3 separate regions of the Homo sapiens genome follow, and regions 1 and 3 are each linked to region 2. The links come from fine-mapping of genetic effects on gene expression. A gene starts in region 2. Each other region holds a variant in brackets. All regions are shown on one strand. Distances are between the middles of the regions. Region 1 overlaps CPNE5 (copine 5). Region 2 holds the start of C6orf89 (chromosome 6 open reading frame 89). Region 3 has its middle 10 kb from the start of PI16.

Evidence for each region. PIP is the estimated chance that this variant, and not a neighbour inherited with it, causes the effect. A credible set is the group of variants that fine-mapping cannot tell apart.
Region 1: its variant is the best candidate, but not a certain one, in a credible set for the expression of C6orf89 in atrial appendage (GTEx, PIP 0.57).
Region 3: its variant is the best candidate, but not a certain one, in a credible set for the expression of C6orf89 in adrenal gland (GTEx, PIP 0.81).

The regions. Positions count from the first base shown.
Region 1 is chr6:36,809,023-36,816,601 of GRCh38, forward strand. All of the region lies in intron 3 of CPNE5 (copine 5), which reads right to left. Among named protein-coding and RNA genes, the nearest start is that of CPNE5, 27 kb to the right of the region's middle. RefSeq lists a silencer at 2,002-2,170. The variant A/C (reference allele first, on the strand shown) is at 3,344.
Region 2 is chr6:36,882,581-36,890,159 of GRCh38, forward strand. It overlaps C6orf89 (chromosome 6 open reading frame 89), which reads left to right and starts at 3,372. Exons shown (of 9, transcript NM_001286635.2): 1 at 3,372-3,448. RefSeq lists an enhancer at 3,132-3,211 and a silencer at 3,432-3,611.
Region 3 is chr6:36,941,281-36,947,916 of GRCh38, forward strand. No RefSeq gene overlaps it. Among named protein-coding and RNA genes, the nearest start is that of PI16, 10 kb to the right of the region's middle. The variant A/G (reference allele first, on the strand shown) is at 3,447.

The DNA of each region.
Region 1 (7,579 bases), 74 kb before region 2:
GCCCTGTAGTTTCTCTACTCCCTAGCGCAGTCTCTGAACTTCTGGGATTACTGTGCCTGCTCCCTTGTTAACACTCCCTGTGGGTCTGGGTGGACCCACAGATCAGGTCATAATGTGAGTGTCCCTGACCTAACACCCTGCCCAACCTCTATCCCTCCCCTTGCAGCCCCTACGCAGAGAGAGAGAGAGGAGAGAGAGAGAGGAAGGGAGAGACAGAGAGAGAGAGAGATTGAGAGAGAGAGAGGAGGAGGAGAGAAAGAGTCCTCAACCCTCCTGTGATTTCCTTTTAAAAATGTTAACAAGTTGGGCAGCACTTTGGGAGGCAGGAGGATCGCTTGAACCTAGGAGTTCGAGACCAACCTGGGCAACATAGTGAGATCCCATCTCCACAAAAAATAAGAAAATTAGCCAGGCATGGAAGCACACGTCTGTAGTCCCAGCTACTTGGGAGGCTGAGGCAGAAGGGTCAATTGAGCCCAGGAGATTGAGGCTGCAGTGAGCCGTGATTGTGCCACTGCACTCCAGCCTGGGCGACAGAGCACGACGCTGTCTCAAAAACAAAAAAACAAACAACAACAACAAAAAGCCAAAACAACAACCAAAAAAAAAATCAAATTGACTTAGGACCTGATTTTAGAGCTGGAAGAAACCAAATCCTCTCAATTAACACATGAGAAAACAAAGGCAGAGAAGGTGGGAGGGGGGCTGTTCTGACCACGGTCACACAGCTCATTAGGAAATGGATGCTGACGGGTACCCCAGCCAGTGGGGCTCCCAGCGCTGAGTGGAGCCCTGGTTCACCCAGAAGCCTGTGGACATCCCTGCTCAGGTTTCTCCCTTCCACCCGATCCTCCTCCTCCTCCTTCTGCTTGGTATCCTGACTTCTCAACTTTGAAACACTTCCATACATCCACGATCTCATTTAACCCCCTCCAATGACCCCGTGACAATGAAATTATTATCATCTCCACTTTACCGATGAAAGAACGGAGCTCTTGGAGGCCAGAGAAGCCCTCCCAGAGGCAACCCATGGTGGGCGAGGAAGGGCCGGGACTCTCAGGAGTGAGAAAGGCAGAGCATCCCTGGTGCTCACCACAGCCCCTACCTCAGGCATGCGTGGGTGGCTCTCTGCAAGCCTGAACAATCTTCATGGCCCTGGATTTAGGCAGCTCTTGCCTTTTTACAAATTACAGCTGGATTGAGCTTCGGAGCCATCCCCCAGCTGCAAAGCCCCCAGGGGCTGTGCCGGTGGGATAGGAGGCTGGAGCTGACAGACTGCTGTCTACCTCACAAGCTGCTCACCCTTCCCCAGCCGTAGATCCCTCAATACTTTTCATATATTATTGATGGCTCCTTAATTGGGGATTCTAAAAGCCTCGCTGCAGAGCCCAGCCCTGGCCCCTCATGAATCATGTTCACTAGGATTAAAATTAGAGGCCAGAAAGCTACCTGACTCAAATAGAAACGGAAAAAGGGAATGTGCTTTCCAAGGCTGGCCCTGGGAATAGGAGCCAGGTGGGGGCGCCCAGTGGCTGGGAAGAGTGGCCTGAGATCTGGGGACAGGAAAGGAGGGCCTGGGGAGGCGGAGGAGCACGGAGGATCTGGCCATGCCAGGCCTGCACCATCTTGGGTCTGGAAAGTTCTCTCTGGTTCTGTCACTGAAGGAGTCCAGAATTCTGTGGCCACCCCTCCTCGTTGCAGTGAGGAAAACCAGGCCCAGAGAGAGATGGGGCTTGCCTAAAATTACAGGGAGTGAGCCATGACCTTGGCACCTTTCGTTTCGTAGGCCTGGTGACCTCCCAAATGGCTGCCTGTTTTGTTAAGGCTTCCAGGTAAGGCAGGGCAGAGGTGGAGACAGGGGCCCTGAGTTAGGGAAGCCCAGGCTCTAAAGGCCTCCCTGTTCTCAAGCCTGGTCAGAGAAGCCTCCCTATCTCGCCCAGAGACCAGGGTCAGGGTATGAAACTTTACCAAGCTTAGAATGAAAGACTTCCTGCCAAAAAGCTTAGTTCCTAATTAGCCATTGTTTCAGATAATCTGTTCAATCATCCCAGCTCCTCGGGGAACGGGGAACGACCCTTTACCAATGAGCCTGGCTGCCAAGCTGCCAACAAAACACTCTCCACCACCTTGTCCCCACCCCCAGCCTTCTAGCCCCGGGTCTGACTGTAGAGGGTGGGGGGCCTGAGCAGTCCCCACCCTAAAGGAAGCCAAGCATCATGGAGGGGGCCCTGGGACTTGTCCCCCAGCTCACTCCAAAACATCGATAGCTCCTGCCAAATGGCATCACGATGTCTGAAATGATACTGTCAATGGTTCCTTCCTCCAGATAAAGCATTGGTTTCTTACTTAGGGCTTCTTATAAGAAGAGCCATTATTGAGCTTTTTCTGCAGGCCAGGCACTTTACACGAATTAGCTTATTTACTCCTCACAGTAGGCTTGTGAGCCTAAGTGCTTGGCCAAGATCCCCCACCTGGGCAGGTGGTGGGCCCATTTTTAAACTTGACTTTGGAGTGCACACTTTCAACAGCTCAGCCACAACTGTAGAGTGCACCTGGACACTAACACTGAAAAGCAAATAGATCTATCAGCCACCAGGGGACCTGGCCTAGAACTCAGGGTTTATTAGAAAAGCCAACTCCTTTCTTCAAATGAAATCTCAGGCTCATGTCTAATGTATTACACAGAAATAATGAACACCTCTGCTTGAAGGAGGAAAGGGAGGCAGGGGCTACACACATATTCACGGTGGATCCTGGAGCTGCCACCCTCAAATCCTGGGGATAGAAAAGCACACTTTGGGCTGGGCGCAGTGGCTCATGACTGTAATCCCAGCACTTTGGGAGGCCGAGGTGGGCGGATCTCCTGAGCTCAGGAATTTGAGACCAGCCTGGCCAACATGGTGAAACCCCATCTCTACGAAAAATACAAAAATTAGCTGGGGGTGGTGGCATATGCCTGTAATCCTAGTTACTCGGGAGGCTGAGGCAGGAGAATTGCTTGGACCCAGGAGGTGGAGGTTGCAGTGAGCCGAGATTGTGTCACCACACTCCAGCCTGGGCGACAGAGTGAGACTCCGTCTCAAAAACAAACAAACAAGAAAAGCCCACTTTGAAAGTCAGTGGCCTGGGCAGAGGAGAAGACCAGGGACTCCGACTCGGAAAACCACATTCACATCCCAGCTCTGCCACTTCCTAGCTGTGTTGCTGGGCAAAGCCAGGATCCCTCTGAGCTCTGCTTCCTCATCTGGGTGTGGTGAGGGCCAAGGGAGATAATGGGGTGCTGCTGATGTGGAGACTGTACAGGGTAGAAGGCATATCAGTCACCCTCTTATTTAAGGAGGGG[A/C]AGGAAAGGGATAGAGCCTCTTTACAGCTTGCCTGATGGTACTGTTTAATAATAAAAAGAATATTTACAGGTCCTGAGCACAGGCAGGCACTGCTAAGTGATTCTGCCATGTGGTCCCTACCACAGTCCACTAAGCAGGCATTGGGAACCCATTTTATTGATGAAAAAAACTAAGGCTCAGAGAGAGGTTAAGGAAAGTGGCAAAGTCAGGATTCAAAGGGACATCCCAGACAGCACCTCACTGTGTCAAAGCAGGTTTTAAAGCCCTGACCCTAAGACTGTGAGTAGGTGGCCATAGACCCATCTAGTCCCTAAAGTAAAGCTTTGGTCCTGGACTGCCTAACCCTGATCACGGGGAGTCAGAGCCCTGAAAATTCAGCTGCATGACAAGAGCAAAGGCCACTAAAGGCTTTCCAAGTGACCTAAGGCTCAGGAGGGACCTCTCTTTGCAGAGGCAGACTTCTCTGCAAAAAGGAGAGAGTCCAGAAAGCCTACCCCAAGCTTGCCTTGGAGTCCACCTCTTAGAGAGGCCTGCCTTCCGCTTTGTGCCTTAGCAATGCTGATGGTCCACTCATTCCTTTGTATCTTTAGATAATGGTCTATGTGGAATGACCAAGGCCAGGTCACCAGGGATCCTAAATTGGGCTCAAGGCCAGGCAGGCAGAGGGTTATTTCTTTTCAGATTTAAACTCTTGGCATTGAACGAACTGGATCCCCTGTGTTCATGCCCACCACAGTCTTATTCCAAAACCTCCACAAGACTGCAAATTATCTTCCTGCTTCTGCCCTTTCCCCTGCAGTCCACTCTGCACACAGTGGCCAGGGCTGTCTTTCTGAAACATAAACCAGGTTGCATCACTCCCCTGCTTAAAACCCTTAAATAGGCCAGGTGTGGTGGCCCACGCCTGTAATCCCAGCATTTTGGGAGGTTTAGGAGGGAGGATCACCTGAGGTCAGGAGTTCAAGACCAGCCTGCTCAACATGGTGAAACTCTGCCTCTACTAAAAATACAAAAATTAGCCAGGCATGGTGGCGCATGCCTGTAGTCCCAGCTACTTGGGAGGGTGAGGCAGGAGAATCACTTGAACCCGGGAGGCAGAGGTTTCAGTGAGCTGAGATCGAGCCATTGCACTCCAGCCTGGGCAATGGAGCAAGACTCCATCTCAAACAAAACAAAATAAAACCCTCAAGTAGCTTAGCATCACACTTAGATCAGTATCAGAACTCTTTATATGGCCTCTGAAGCCCTACAGGATCTGAACCTGATGACCTCTGTGACCGTATTGTCCACTTTCTTAATTGTTCACACCACTCAAACTACACCAGCCTTCTTTTTGTCCTTGAAATACAGTAAGCTTGTTCCCACCTCAGGGCCTTTGCACTTGCTGTTCCCTCCACCTGCAACACCCTGCCCCCCAGAATGATGCATGGCACCACTCAAGACTCAGCTCCAGTGCCACCAAGTTTGGCTTGGTTCACAGGATCTCCAAGGGCGGCCTCTCCCACTGTGATGGAGTGCCCAGGTCAATGGTAGATTGCGGTTAATATTTCCAGGCATTTTCATAAGCATTACCTTAGTTAGTCTACCCACAAAGGTCTCTTAGCCCCTTTTTATCGATTAGTAAGCTGAGACTTGAGAAGATAAATAACTCACCTAGGTCATACAGTTAGTAAATATCAGAGCTGGTATGAAAACCCAGAGTTTTGGACATCAAGTTCAGGCCTCATCTGACAAATGCATTTGACTGTTATTCATGATGTCTTTAGGGACCAGATGGGAAAATATAGCACATAGGTGGCTGAACGGCCTACCCCAAAGGTCAATTAAAAAACTGAAGTCAATCTGGGAAAAGATCTCTAGTGGAGGAACGCAGTACTCCATCCCATTCAATTCCTTGTCACCTGTGTCGGTGAGGACTACAGCTGACCCAGGACCAAGAGGCATAACCAAGATGCTGAATGCAAGATCGTAATTCAACATGGTCTCCATAAACTGTAACAACGGACTGAATCCAACAAACGACACATGATGGCAATAAATGTGAAATCACAGATTTAGGTTCAAAAACTCATTGCCAACTCTGAGGTAGGGAAATTGGCAAAGCTATTTGGACAGCAACTCATGGAGAAAGACACAGAAGTCCCCAAACTCAGTACGAATTAAGTCAAAAACACCTGCCAAAAGATCAGTGGCATATTAGATAGTGTCGCTAGATGTGTAATCCTCAGAAGCAGACACAGAATGCAGAGGCCAGCAGGGAGGAGCGTGATGATCTAAGGCAAGCCCCTGTGTGGAGGAAGCCAGCCCATGATGCTCTGGGCTGCAGAAGGGGATGGCGGGGACACATGCTGTCCAGGAGGGTGCTCAGGTTGGTAAAGGGACAGAAAACAGTGATATGAAAAGCTTCAGTTTCCTCCTCTGTCAAATGGGGCCAATAATAATAATAATACCTCCTTCATAGGATTGTTGTGAGGATTCATTGAGTTAATGCAGGTAAAGTACTTAGAACAGTGTCTATGGCCAGGTGCGGTGGCTCACGCCTGTATTCCCAGCACTTTGGGAGGCCAAGGCAGGTGGATCACTGGAGGTCAGGAGTTCAAGACCAGCCTGAAACCAACCCCATCTCTACTAAAAATAGAAAATTAGTCGGGCGTGGTGGTGCACGCCTGTAATCCCAGCTACTCAGGAGGCTGAGGCAGGAGAATCACTTGAACCCGGGAGGTGGAGTTTGCAGTGAGCAGTGATCGTGCCATTGTACTCCAGCCTGGGCGACATAGCAAGACTCTGTCTCAAAAAAAAAAAAAAGAACAAAAAAAAAGAACAGAACAGTGTCTGCACATTGCTGTCATGTGTTTGCCATTATCATTACTGTGATTGGTGTCATCTCCCTGGGTTGAAAGTGAGCTCCTCTGGTTGTAGGCAGTGTCTGGTCCCCCTTTGCACCCCCAGCATTCATCCCCCAGCACATAGTAGGTGCCTGCTGTAGTCTGAATGTTTGTGTCCCTCTGAAATTCACGTTGAAATTCTTATTTCATTGTGATGCTATTCAGAGGTGAGGCTTTGGGGAGGTGATTAGGTCAGGAGGGCAGAGCCCTCATGAATGGGCTTAGAGTGTGTTCATCCCTCCCACCATGTGAGGACACAGCAAGATGGAACTGGCCCTCACCAGACATTGAATTTGCTGGTGCCTTGATATTGGACTTCCTGGCCTCCAGAACTGTGTAAATAAATTTCTGTTGGTTATAAGCTACCCAGTTTATGGTATTTTTGTTATAGCAACCTGAACAGACTAAGACAGTGCCCAACACATGCTCACAGAGGTTATGTGAAGACACATGTCAAGTTGCCCCGAGGAAGATCATTCAGAATATTTAGAGATGAACCATCAATTTCAGCTGCTGGTGAAAAGTTTAACAGGCTAATTCTCCTCAAAAAAGAGACTGAGTGCTTTGGCAGGGACATGTGGGTGTGGTGGCTGGGGCCAATGACTGCAGTGGTATGGGGCGATCTGCTGGACACCCTAAGATTCTGTGATTCCCATTTCTTTTCCAAGAGGCCCTCAGCCAAGACAGCTGCCTGGTGAGGGAGGGGCAGGGATCTCCATACCCACTTTTCAAATGGGAAACCTAGAGGGGTTCCCTATCATGTCCCTCTTCCCAGTGGAAGCATTTCTGGGACTCTTCCCACCTGGCCATCCTGCCTTAGTTAGTCTACCCACGAAGGTCTCTTAGCCCCATTTTATAGATTAGTAAGCTGAGACTTGAGAAGATAAATAACTCACCTAGGTCACACAGTCAGTAAATATCAGAGCTGGTCTGAAAACCCAGGGTTTTGGACATCAAGTTCAGGCCTCATCTGACAAATGCATTTGACTGGACATGCAGAAGGCCCTGGCAGGACTTGATGCAAACAGTGCTTGATTTTCTGGGCTAAAATTACATCTTGAGTCAATTTTCATGAAATGTGGTGACAGATTTAGGTGCTGGGAAGATGGAGCTTTCTCAGAAGGCATAAAAATGACCCAAATGGTTAAAACCAGCTGAAAGCCGGCAGCCAGGGGCCACGAGAGCAGATTTCATCCCTCCCAGGATTGGCTCATCTGCAGCCTCATGCAAACCCCACGTACAGAGAAAGTGCTGTGCCTGCACTTGACTTCCCCTGACCACAGGATTATTATTTCTCGGACAAGATTCTGGTAACAGAGAGGTGATTTGTTCCTGAAGGGCAATGAACTA
Region 2 (7,579 bases):
AAATTGCAGAAATAATTTAAATCCAATGTTTGGTTCCATATTCCTGGAAAGACGATCAAAGCTTCAGATGCGTTTGGCTACCTGATGGGCCATTTAAACATTTATAAAGAGATTTCATTCAATTGTCATTTTCTTTTTTTTTTTTTCTTTTTTCTTTTTTTTTTTTTTGAGACGGAGTCTCGCTCTGTCGCCCAGGCGGGACTGCGGACTGCAGTGGCGCAATCTCGGCTCACTGCAAGCTCCGCTTCCCGGGTTCACGCCATTCTCCTGCCTCAGCCTCCCGAGTAGCTGGGACTACAGGCGCCCGCCACCGCGCCTGGCTAATTTTTTTTGTATTTTTAGTAGAGACGGGGTTTCACCTTGTTAGCCAGGATGGTCTCGATCTCCTGACCTCATGATCCACCCGCCTCGGCCTCCCAAAGTGCTGGGATTACAGGCGTGAGCCACCGCGCCCGGCCTGAATTGTCATTTTCAATGCATGTTTTCTGGTTGTATAAAAGCTTTCCCATGCAATAGGGCTGATGTTATAACAGTAGATTATAGTGTATTTTCACCAGACAAAGAAAACTTTTTATGATTCACTGAGGACAATCCCTTCACAATCTAGAACCTGCAGATTGGATCGTCTGAGAACACCAGAGAAAGAGAAAGACTGTCCTTGCCATCCACACTACAGCAAAACTTTGGAGCTTTAAACCTTGGGTTCATAATCTCACAGCTGAGAAGGGTCCCTCCACACTCCTGGAACTGTACATCCATTGGAACCCTTAAGGTAAAACTAACCAGAAAAGTTTCTCCCCAGAAGATGGCATCCTTGATTAGAATAGCTTTTCCCAAGATCATAGATCAAAACTTCTACTATCACAAGACTCTTATCTTTGAATATTTTTTCCTTGTTTATGCCTCTATGAACAATAGAAATTAAAAGTGGGTCTATTATATGCACTTATAGGGTATACTTTTATTTGTGAAGGATTTTGCAGCCAGCCTTAAACATGAATAACCTTATATTTCAATAGATAAAAGATGAAGGCCCAATGTAGGTAACAAACTTTAGTGGTACATACATTGCCTCATAATCAGTCAAAACTCCTCTTAACCCACATCATGGATTAAAGAGAACATTGACAAGAGGCCTTCACTCTTCTAGAAAGACATCCATTTGTTAGGTCCTTTTTCCATGGTTTAGAATAAAAGAGGCAATAATTTGAAATGTCTCCCTCATAATAGGCTCTACAGCAAATTCTACTTTAAAGGCTATCGTTACACAACAGACTTTAAATTCTCCTTTGAAAATTATACTAAGTAATAGAATTGGCTAAACAGAAAAGTACCTGTGCAGCTGTTGACACCTGTGGCCTATGGAGAAATACAGCAAATGTAAATTATAAACAATTCTGGCCGGGCGTGATGGCTGACACCCGTAACCTCAGCACTTTGGGAGGCAGAGGTAGGCGGATCCCCTGAGGTCAGGAGTTTGAGAGCAGCCTGGCCAACATGGCAAAACCCTGTCTCTACTAAAAATATGAAAATTAGCCTGGCGTGGTGGCAGGTGCCTGTAATCTCAGCTACTCAATAGGCTGAGGCGGGAGAGTCACTTGAACCTAGGAGGTGGAGGTTGTAGTGAGCTGAGATCGCCGCTGCATTCCAGCCTTGGTGACAGAGCAAGACTCCCTCTCACAAAATAAATACAATAAAAATAAATATCCAGTTGTAGGGGATTAGTGAAAAGACCACTTAGTCAAGCAAGGAGACTCTTCATCTAACTCATTCTTCAATCTATTTAATTTTAGGTGGTTTGGCTTATGGGGACCCTGGGTAAGGAGCATACTCCAAACTCTTGCTATTATCCGCCCGATAATGATAATAATAGTCTCCCTGGTGCACTGTATTCTCTCAAAGATTTTAAATGCTTGCATGCAGCCATCTCTACAACGTCAAATGATCTCTTTTCAACTGGAATAACAAAAACTGAAAGAAATGTGTGACCATGAAGGCACCGTAACCTATGAATGACATGCTGAGACCAGAAACCCAAAATGATGTAACTGAGAGTGGCGCTAAGGCCCTAAGTTCTGGTCACGCTGTCACCTAAGTAAGAACCTGGCCAAAAGTGAGGAATTTTTTTTTAAACAAAATCATGGGAGGCCATTATTTTGGACTGAGCTCATGCACTAGGCACCAACAAACCAAACCAAACTAAAATGGAGTCACTCATGCTAAATGTGACATAATCAAACCAAGGCTTTAAAAAAACACAAAATGCTAGAACAGACCAGGTTTTTTCTCCTGTAAACAGATGTTTCAGAATAAGGAGGTATCCTCTACTCAGCCCTTATTCTCTTCCTGCAAAACCCACTGTTCTACTGTTTCCTAGTGAGTTTCAAAACCATACAGGTACACTTATGACAGCGATAATAACATCAATGACCAAGGTTTTGGTCAATCTCTCAAAATTGAGAAAATGACCAAAACGGGGGAATTGTTAAGGCAAACTAAATATGGCCTGAGAAGGACTCTGTCCTTCTATATTTGAGTCCTTGTGGATGAACTGTAACATAGCTTAATAGTCAAACAAAATTGAAAACCTAACTTAATAGTATACACCTGTAACAATAACTGAGTGGTGGCCAATCCCAGCGGCCATACTTCAACCACTCACAGCCTGCTGAATGTTCAATCTGCGTTCAAATCAGGCAAACACCGAGCTGTAACCAACCTCACTGTTTCTGTACCTTACTTCCGATTCCTGTGCCTCACTTTGCCTTTTTTATCTATAAATTTGTTCTGACCATGAGGCACCCTGGGAGTCTGTGAATCTGCTGTGATTCTGGGGGTTGCCTGATTCGTGAATCTTCCATTGCTCAATTAAACTCCTTTATACTTAATTCGGCTTAAGTTTTTCTTTTATCAACAGAGTAAGCTCTCACTAATGAGTGGGCTGAGTGAAAACTGGAGGGATTTGTTCGTCTTTCTCAAGAGTAGTAGCTTCCAGAAGGAAGGGGCTGCTCTTCATTTACATTTCCCTTCCACTCCCATCCCTTAATGCCTAACATGCTGCCTGGCACATAGTAGGGGACTCAGTAAATGCTTGTTCTATGGATCAGTTCAGCTATGAAGTCTGTGTGAGCCAGTCCAGGTAAATTAGGAAGACAAGGATTTAGGACTGGGGCGAAAAGAGCCAGAACGGAAGAAGGACGCCAGGGGGAGCAAGAACCTACACTCTCCAGATATCGCGAGAGGTCCCGCGCTCGCCACGACACTGAGTGTTCTGTTTTGGGCGGAAGCGCTGGACGAGAGGAGGAATTACTCTAGGGTACAAGGCCTCGCCCAGGAGTGGGGGGTTGCTTCCGGGTCGCGCTCCCGGAAACAGGAAGTTGCCCATCCTCCTCGCCCGGCGGCAGCTGTCCCCGAGGCGGGAGGAGCCCGAGGGGCGCGAGCCCCGCATGTGAGTGACTGGGGCCCGAGGCTGGGTGGGGGGAGGCCGCCCTGTGACAGCCTCGCCGCGCCCGTCTCTGACATCCTCGCGCAGCCGCTTCTCGCCGCTGCTACCACCCTCTATCCCAGCGCGGATCCCTTTTCTCAGTCTCTCCAGTTTTGTAGACTGACAGCATCCCCTGGCAGCTCCCCCGGGGTCGACTCCCTTAAGACATCTGTCACTTTCTTTGACTCCGCCGGGGAGAGCAAAACGAGGTGGACCTTGCTTGAACTTGGTTCTCAGGCATCACAGCAGTGTCCATAACTTGAGCGTTGCTAATGAAGTCCAGATTTCTGCCCTTTTGACGGAATTTTTAAGAAATTAAGAGTAGATTCCCCACCCCCTTCTGAAAGATCTTTTTCTAATAATCGTTAGGGGGCAATAATTTTTTTTCTTTAAATGTGTACTTGGTATGTGATAAACCTGGCATCTTGGATTTCAGAAAGAAATATGACTTGGTTTCTTGACACAAGTAAAATAGTTGTTTGTAATCACCTCTTAGTAGAAGGAAATTTGCCTGCGTCGTGTTTTGTAGTATTTTAAGACTGTTAACCGTGCAGGCCACACTTTCTAGTCTCAGAGCCCTCATAGCCTTTGTATTCGCAAATATGTTTCTTTTAAAGTATTTAGTCATAAATCACTTTATAATAGAGACTACTTCCAGATACTTAGTATTCTGACTTTTCTGATGGCTCATTTGGTAGTTCCTGTGGTGGGATCTTCTATAGACGTCTCTCCCTTAATAAATTCGTTCATTTGAATTTGGGTTGTCAAAATTTCCCTCTAGGGAATAACATGCCTTTAAAATAATAACTAATAAATTCAATTCTGCTACATTGAAGTTTTGACTAAAGGTTCATGTAGCCCAACTTGCATACCAGAAAGAGGTCCTGTTTCTGTCAGACCTTTTCTGCCTTGGACTGAGGCATTTTTCAAGACCTGCTTTGAATACCTGTTCCTCCACAGCTACTCCACACACCAGAAACAATGTCCAAATGCTAGATTCCTAACCTGCTAACCTTAAACCCTCATCACATTGTTGCTACCTCTGCGTTTTTTTGTTTTTTTTTTTTTGAGACGGAGTCTCACACTGTCGCCCAGGCTGGAGTGCAGTGGCGTGATCTCTGCTCACTGCAAGCTCCGCCTCCCCGGTTCACACCATTCTCCTGCCTCAGGCTCCCGACCTCTGCATTTTTAAAAATGAATAAAATAATAAAACATAAAATGAATAAACCATGAGCCACGAGTTACATTCAATTAGTTCGGAATGATAATTTTAGGTCCTTTCTATAAATTTGTTCAACATTGATCTGATTCCACATCTGAGGTGAATTCCCACGTCTGTTCTTAGTTTTTTGTGTTTTCTCCATTTATCTCTGCTTTCAAGAAACACTATTTAGGGTGGGAGGTAGACAGGAAAATAGATGTAATGCCAAGCCCTAGAGGTGCATAGGACAAAAACTGAGGTCAGAGTCTTAAAGAGTTCACTTATTGGACAAAGCACTGGAGACTAGGCTTTTTAGGCAGAGGAAATTGTGTATGCAAAAGCAAAAAGATGTGAAATAGTATGACAGTGTAGAATGTGAAGAAGGATTGATGGGAAATGAAACTGAACAGGTAGGCAGTGACCAGATCATAAAGGGCCATGGTAAGTAATTTGGACTTTATCTTTTAAAAAAGACAGGAATCTCATTCCATCACCCAGGTTGGAGTACAGTGGTGCTATTACGGTTCACTGCAGCCTCGAACTCCTGGGCTCAAGCTACCCCTCACCTCTGCTTCCCAAGTAGCTGGGACTACAGGCAGGCACCACCACACTCGGCCAATTTTTATTTTTATTTTTTTTGTAGATACAGGGTCTTGCTATGTTACCCAGGCTGGTCTTGGAAGTCCTGGGCTCAAGCAGTCCTCCCACCTCAGCCTCCCAGTGTTGGGATTACAGGCATGAACCACCATGCTTGACTTAGGACTTTATCTTAAAATGATTGTTATTAGGTATTTAATTTGTCTGGCTATTGGAACAAATGTGTTACATCATTTTATAATTCTCTGAAATAAAACATTGTGGGGTAGAAATAATTATCCCCATTTTATACATGAAAACTGAGGCTTAGAGAGGATGAGTAGTGTCTCATGGCCACACAGTAAGTGGTAAAATCTAGAATTTGCATCCAGCTTTTTCCAACTCCAGTATCTGTGTTCTTAGTCACCATGCTAAACTGCTCCTGCAGAGGATGGGGAGTCTTGGAAGGTGCTTAGCATGAGCCAATTTGTGTTTCAAAAAAATAAGTGGCCGAGTGCAGCGGCTCACGCTTGTAATCCTAGCACTTTGGGAGGCTAAGGTGGGTGGATCACTTGAGGTCAGGAGTTCAAGACCAGCCTGGCCAACATGGTGAAACCCATTTTTTACCAGAAAAATACAAAAATTAGCTGAGTGTGGTGGCGCGTGCCTGTACTCCCAGCTACTCCAGAGGCTGAGGCACGAGAATCTCTTGAAGCCAGGAGACAGAGGTTGCAGTGAGCTGAGATCATGTCACTGCACTCCAGCCTGAGCGAAGAGTGAGACCCTGTCTCAGAAAATAAAAATAAAAAACTGGACAAGGTAGAGAATGGATTGGGGAAGAGGAGAACTGGAAGTATAGAGATTAACTACATCTTTGTGATGGTCCATAGGAGAGATGTTGAAGACCTTAACTGTGCTGTTAATGTAGAGAGGAAGGGATGAATGTGAGAATTATATAGGAGGCTGAATCAAGAGGACTTAGTGATAGTTTCATTGGTGGGAGTGAGGTAGGAGGAGAATAGTTTTTAAATTTGGAGGATTAGTGTTTCCATTAAGAAAAGAGGTGCAGTGGGAGGAATGAGTTGAAGGGGAAAACAGTAAGTTGGGTTATAGACACATTACATACAGGGAGCTATGGGAAACTTGGATCACCGTGTCTGGTAGGCAGGTAGATAAATGGGTCTTGAACCCTAGAGAGAGTTGTAGACTGGAGAAGAGATTTGGGAATCACCAATAGCTGGTGGTCAAAGTGTTGGAGGGAATAAGAAGGTCAAGGATAACTGGTGGATACCAGCAGAGAACGAGAGAATTATGTTAAGGTTTGAGTACACTTGAGGGAGATAGATAATGGGGTAGCAACAGCAGCTGCTGCAGAGAGGTCAGATAAGGTAATAACTGAAAAAAACGTCCTTCGAACTTGGCGTTTAGAAAGCCATTTGTGGCCTCAGTGAAAGCAATGTCGGTGGAGTGAGGAGGCAGAAATATGATTTCAACAGGTTAATAAATGAATGGAAACCTGAGAAACAAGAAAGTGTGTTACTTTCTCCCCCCAACCCCCAAAGGAGCTTTCCTCTGAAGGGAGGGAGGGAGAGAGTACCAGAAACTTAGAAAGGAACTATTATGGCATTTTTCTGATAGTAGAAACTGGAAAGGGTGAGGATGGAAGCAAGTAGAGGTAAGCTTAAAAATGTGAAGACTTCTTCAAGTATGTCAATGTCCTAAAAGACCAAAAAACAAAAACAAAAAAAAAAAGAAAAACCACACACTGGGGACTTGTTCTGAAGTTAAGTAGATTAAAGAGAGGCATGGCAGCCAAATTCAATGTGTGGTCATTGGTTGGATCCTGGATTTTTAAATAGCTATATGATCTTTTTAAAAAAATTTGATAGTTAAGGAAACTTGACTATAGACTGAATATTAGGTAATATTAAGAGATTACTCATTTTAATGGGTATGGCAATAATGCCAATGGTTGTGTGTAGAATAACGTCGTTATTCTTAGGAGATGCATGTTGAAATATTTAGAAATGATTTTATAATGTGTTGCAAATAACTTTCAAGTAGTTCTGGTAAAAACAGAAAGAAAATATAGCCAAATGTAAACAACTGGTAAATCTAAATGAAGGATATCCAGGTGTTCATTGTACTATTTTTGTACAAAAAGCTTTACACATTTAATGTGTACAGCTTGATGAATTTGGACATAAGTATGCCCTTGTGAAACCATCACCATGATCCATGCCATCAACCTATCCATCACCTTCAAGTTTCCTCCTGCCTTCTTACTTATTATTACTATTAGCAATAAGAACACTTAA
Region 3 (6,636 bases), 58 kb after region 2:
CCGAGGTGCCGGGATTGCAGATGGAGTCTCATTCACTCAGTGCTCAATGTTGCCCAGGCTGGAGTGCAGTGGCGTGATCTCAGCTCGCTACAACCTCCACTTCCCAGCTGCCTGCCTTGGCCCCCCAAAGTGCCGAGATTGCAGCCTCTGCCCGGCTGCCACCCCGTCTGGGAAGTGAGGAGCATCTCTGCCTGGCCACCCATCGTCTGGGATGTGAGGAGCCCCTCTGCCTGGCTGCCCAGTCTGGGAAGTGAGGAGCGCCTCTTCCCAGCCGCCATCCCGTCTAGGAAGTGAGGAGCGTCTCTGCCCGGCCGCCCATTGTCTGAGATGTGGGGAGCGCCTCTGCCCCGCCGCCCAGTCTGGGATGTGAGGAGCGCCTCTGCCCAGCCACGACCCCGTCTGGGAGGTGAGGAGCGTCTCTGCCCGGCAGCCGCCCCGTCTGAGAAGTGAGGAGCCCCTCCGCCCGGCAGCCGCCCCGTCTGGGAAGTGAGGAGCGTCTCCGCCCGGCCAGCCGCCCCGTCCGGGAGGGAGGTGGGGGGCAGCCACCGCCCGGCCAGCCGCCCCGTCCGGGAGGTGGGGGGCGCCTCCGCCCGGCCGCCGCCCCATCCGGGAGGTGGGGGGCGCCTCTGCCCGGCCGCCCCTTCTGGGAAGTGAGGAGCCCCTCTGCCCCGCCGCCACCCCTTCTGGGAGGTGTACCCAACAGCTCATTGAGAACGGGCCATGATGACAATGGTGGTTTTGTCGAATAGAAAAGGGGGAAATGTGGGGAAAAGAAAGAGAGATCAGGTTGTTACTGTGTCTGTGTAGAAAGAAGTAGACATGGGAGACTCCATTTTGTTCTGTACTAAGAAAAATTCTTCTGCCTTGGGATGCTGTTGATCTATGACCTTACCCCCAACCCGGTGCTCTCTGAAACATGTGCTGTGTCCACTCAGGGTTAAATGGATTAAGGGCGGTGCAAGATGTGCTTTGTTAAACAGATGCTTGAAGGCAGCATGCTCGTTAAGAGTCATCACCACTCCCTAATCTCAAGTACCCAGGGACACAAACACTGCGGAAGACCCCAGGGTCCTCTGCCTAGGAAAACCAGAGACCTTTGTTCACTTGTTTATCTGCTGACCTTCCCTCCACTATTGTCCTATGACCCTGCCAAATCCCCCTCTGCGAGAAACACCCAAGAATGATCAATTAAAAAAAGAAAAAAAAGAAAAAGAAAAAACACCCTAGAGAAAGAACATAGCACTAGTCCCAGCATGGTGACTCATGCCTGTAATCCCACACTTTGGGAGGCTGAGGCAGGAGGGTAACTTGAGCCCAGAAGTTCAAGACCAGCCTGGGCAACATAGCAAAACCCCATCTCTATAATTTTTTTTTAAAAAATTAGCTGGGCATAATGATGAATGTCTCTAATCCTGCCTAACTGGGAGGCTGAGCCCAGGAGTTGAAGGCTGCAGTGAGCCATGATCACACCCCTGTACTCTAGCCTGGGTAACAGAGTGAAATCTCGTCTCAAAAACAAAATGAAACACAAACCACATAGCACCTTTGGCTACAGAGGATTCTATCAGATACAATACCACCGAAATAAGCAGGCAATAAAAAATTATAAAACACAAAAGGATATCCTCTAGTATGAGAATTAATAGACACAATAGGATGGCTAAAACCAAGAATTTCAGATAAAACAAAATCTAAAAAAACAATATAAAAGTAAGCCTAGGACAATTTAAAAATAAAGAGAACTGTTTAAAACTAGAGAGAAAGACTTTGAAAAAAATATTTAAAGTTACTAAAGGTATGCCTAGAAACAAATCACTGAAATTTACAATTCAATCATTTTGTAACCACCAGGTCATCAGAAGTTAGAAAAAATGGCAATAACAAGTGTTGCTAAGGATATGGAGCAATGAGAACTCACTTCACACACTCCTGGCTAGGGGTGCGATTTGGAAAAACACGCATCACCTAGTAAGTTGAAGGTGCCCATAACCTCTTATCCCCGCACAATTCTGCTTTTGTGCATTTAGATAAATACCCTAGAGACTCTTGCCCTTGTGTAGTAAGAGCTGCACAAGAATTTTTATAAAAGTGTAATCATTCAGAACTGGCTTCAGCACTAAAGAAGAAAGGTATAATCAACAAGAAATTTTAAAGAATGTAGTATAGTCACACAATGCAATACTGTATAGCAAGGGAAAAGAATAAAGATACCAATTTGGATGCATCTCAGGAATAAAAAAAAAAAAAAAGAACAAACCAAAGAAAGAGAGAGAAAGAAAAAAGAGAGAAAAAGAAAACAGAAAGAAGGAAACAGTGAGAGAGAGAAAGAGGAGAAAAAGAAGGAAAGAATGAAAGGAAGGAAGGAAAAGAAGAAAGAGAAAGAGAGAAAGAAGGAAGGAAGGGCCGGGAGCGGTGGCTCACGCCTGTAATCCCAGCACTTTGGGAGGCTGAGGCAGGCAGATCACAAGGTCAGGAGATTGAGACCACAGTGAAACCCCGTCTCTACTAAAAATACAAAAAATTAGCCGGGTGTGGTGGCTGGCGCCTGTAGTCCCAGCTACTCGGAGAGGCTGAGGCAGGAGAATGGCGTGAACCCAGGAGGTGGAGGTTGCAGGAGCCAAGATCGCGCCCCTGCACTCCGGCCTGGGCGACAGAGCGAGACTCTGTCTCAAAAAAAAAAAAGAAAAAGAAAGAAAGAAAGAAAAGAGGAAGGAAGGAAGGAAGGAAAAGAAAAGAAAGAGAAGAGCCAGGCGCAGTGGCTCACGCCTGTAATCCCAGCACTTTGGGAGGCCGAGGCGTGCGGATCACGAGGTCAAGAGATAGAGGCCATCCTGGCCAACATGGTGAAATCCTGTCTGTCACTAAAAATACAAAAATTAGCTGGACATGGTCATGTGCGCCTGTAGTCCTAGCTACTCGGGAGGCTGAGGCAGGAGAATCGCTTGAACCCGGGAGGTGGAGGTTGCAGTGGGCCAAGATCACACCACTGCACTGCAGCCTGGTGACAGAGTGAGACTCCATCTCAAAAAAAAAAAAAAAAAAAAAAGGAAAGAAAGAAAGAGAAAGAAAATAAAGAAAGAAAAAGGGAAGGAGGGAGGGAGAAGGGGAAGTCCAAGACAGGTGTGAAAACCCGAGAAGGGGTCAGTTTCCAGGTGAGGGGTCAGCCTGGGTGCAGGGGAAGAGGCACCTGCCTAGTGGGCGTAAGGAATGGAGGGCTGGTACTTTCTTCTCCATGACCCCCTTGCTCAGAACGACCTATTTTCAGCATTTTGTGCAGACTGGCTTCCATCCATGCACCTTAGGCATTGTTCTCTGATGCTATCTGAGGCACTTGTCTGTCCTTTAAAATAGTCTCTGCATTTTTCAGATGACTGCTACCCCTGGTTTGGAGTTTGCTGTGATAGAACTAAAGTAAAATTTCTTAGTGACTCCACTGTTGCCGTGCC[A/G]TCAAGCATCTGGGACTGGAAAAGCCGGGTTGCTCGGGTGGTTTGGATTCAGTGCCGCTGATCTTTTGTTTCCATGAGAACACAGAATGTGGCCAACCAGCAATCTGGTCTGACCTTGATGCCTAAATTCTAATGAAAGAGCAAGTTGAACTATAATGGTGAGAATGGAAACTAAGAACATTCTATCCAAAATGTTTGAGAAAGCCTTGTGACCAAAGGTGAGTGACTCAGAGTTTCTCTAAGACCCTGAAATGGGTGATAACGTCATGTCTAACCTTGGGAATTGGCTGAGTAAATCTCAGTACAGCTGCTCTATGGAAGGTGTGCAAACCTTGTAAGTGGTGGTTATAAAGATATGGAGCAAGTTGGAGAAATTATTTATAATAAATTATCTGGGGAAAAAAGTCAGGACTCAATATGGTGCAGGTGCGGTTGTTTCATTAAGGCAAGAAGATGCTAAGATTGCTTCTCAAACTGTCAGTGGTGATTGACCAGTTTGATTTTATAAAATTTCCAATCCATCCCAAATGTAAAGTTTTGTAAAATATCGTAAAAATAAATGATTAAATGTATATCCATCAAAGGACTTGTATCTAAAATACATAAAGAACTCTCAAAACTCAACAGAAAAAAAATCCAAATAGAACTAGAAGACACGAACAGACAGTCCACCAAAGAGGATATGTGGGTTGCAGAAAACACAGGAAAAGATGTTCAAAATCATTACCTATTAGGAAAATGAATGTCCATTTCCTGGTTTGGGTATTGTATTATTGTTATATAAGATGTCATCATTGGAAGAATCTGGGTAAACAGCTCATGGGATTTTACGTACTTTTTTCGTGATTTCCTGTGAGTCTATTATTATTTCAAAATAAAAAGTTATCAGGCCAGGCTTGGTGGCTCATGCCTGTAATCCCAGCTCTTTGGGAGGCTAAGACGGTGCAGGTGCAGATCACCTGAGGTCAGGAGTTCGAGAACAGACTAGCCAACATGGTGAAACCCCGTCTCTACTAAAAATACAAAAATTAGCTGGGCGTGGTGTTACACCCCTGTAATCCTAGCTACTCGGGAGGCTGAGGCAGGAGAATTGCTTGAACCGGGGAGGCAGAGGTTGCAGTGAGCAGAGATTGTGACACTGCACTCTAGCCTGGGTGACAGAGCGAGACTTGGTCTCAAAAAAAAATAATAAAATAAATAAATAATAAAAATGAAATGAAAAGCAGATACATGAAATACAAGCCCAACTTTTAAATCATAGATTCAACAGGCAGAAAACAACCATGTCCAATTGCTGTAAGAGTTTCTAAACATTTACTCTCATTTTCTGGGCCTGTTGTGCTGAAAAACAGTGGCGAATCTCTGGCAGACCAGCACCGGGCCGTGGACCACACTTTGAGTGGCTGTGGACCACCTGCTCAGACGAGAAGCAAATGCCAGAGATGGAATTATTTTTTTTTCCTTTTTGGCTTATTTTTTTGTTATGGAGTTATACTGCTGTTCAAAATAAAACTTGATTTAAAATATACAGAAATAATAATACAGAAGAAAATCTATTTTCCCCAAGTCTGGGTTTATGGATAAAACACACCGTCTACTCTGATGCTGCCTTCTCTTTCTCCCTCTCACCCTCCCCTAACTTCACCTCTTCCATTCCTCTCTCTCCTCCATGTGCTTGCCTTAACTGCCCTCTTTTCCTAGTGGCAGGTCCCTGGCTCTGGTCCCACCACTTTGTCACTATTCCAGACCCTCCCCGACCTATACTGGGGAAATCACTTACCTTTCTGAGCATCAGTCTCCTTATGCGGGGTGACAGTGAGACTCACCTTGGAGAGCTATCCTGTGAGGAGTGGGTGAGGTCACTCAAATGGGAGAAGCTCTGTGAACCACGTATAAGTGTGCACACGCAGAGTGGACTCTGTCTGCACACCTGGGTCCCCACATGCGCTGGCTGGCTCTGGTCAGCCTCCCAGTCTTCATTCCCATCTCACCCAACCCTCTCAGGCAAGCCAGGTGTCTCTGCTTCCAACCAAATGCCCTTCCCAGGAGGCCTCCCCAGCCCACATCCTGGCAACACTCAACCAGTGCCCCTGTCCCTCAGAGAGGGGTGTGTCCTCCCTTTCTACCTAGGAGCTCTCCCAGGCCAAGGCAGTCCTCCCCAGGGTAAAAGCCAAGTCAGGTTGCTGTATTTTTTTTCTTTGCTATAGCCTCAGGCTATGCAAACTTTTCCACCTGTTATATATAACAGGTGGAAGATATATAATAACAAATACAGTAAGTTCTCACTTAAGTTGCTGATAGACTCTTGGAAACTGCAACTTTAAGGGAAACAAAACCAATTTTACCATAGGCTAATTGATATAAATGAATAGAATTCCTGTGACATATTTCTGGTGACAAAAACATCACCAAACTTCTAAAGATCAAAACACTTCTAATATTAAACACTGAAATGAATGTAAGCTATACATACATTTAAGAAAAATTAAGAAAAACAAGATAATTAGGCCAGGTGCACTGGCTTACGCCTGTAATCCCAGCACTTTGCAAGGCCCAGGTGGGTGGATCACCTGAGGTCAGGAGTTCGAGACCGGCCTGGCCATCTTGGTGAAACCTCATCTCTACTAAAAATACAAAAGTTAGCTGACTGTGGTGGTGGGCACCTGTAATCCAGCTACTCAGGAGGCTGAGGCACAAGAATCACTTGAACCCAGGAGGTGGCGGTTGCAGTGAGCTGAGATTGTGCCACTGCACTCCAGCCTGGGTGACAGAGCGAGACACTCTCTCGAAAGAAAGAAAGAAAGAGAGAGAGAGAGAGAGAGAAAGAAAAAAGAAAGAAAGAGAAAGAAAGAAGAAAGAAAGAAAAACAAGATAATTATTTACCCAATTATTCCAGTTCAGGGTCGTGGGTGGCTGGAGCCCATCCTGGCAGCTCAGGATGCCAGGTGGGAACCTACCCTGGACAGGACATGGTGCTCACACACCCACACTCACTCGTGCTGGGACCATGCAGACTCACCAATGAGCCTAGCGTGCACAGCTTTGGGACATGGGAGAAAACCCACGCAGACGTGGGGAGAATGCAAACACCACGCAGACAGTGGCCCCTGCAGGAATCGAATTTTTCTCTTACCAATGTCATGACAAAAAGACATGGAATGAAATGACGTTATTCAAGGACCTGCTGTAT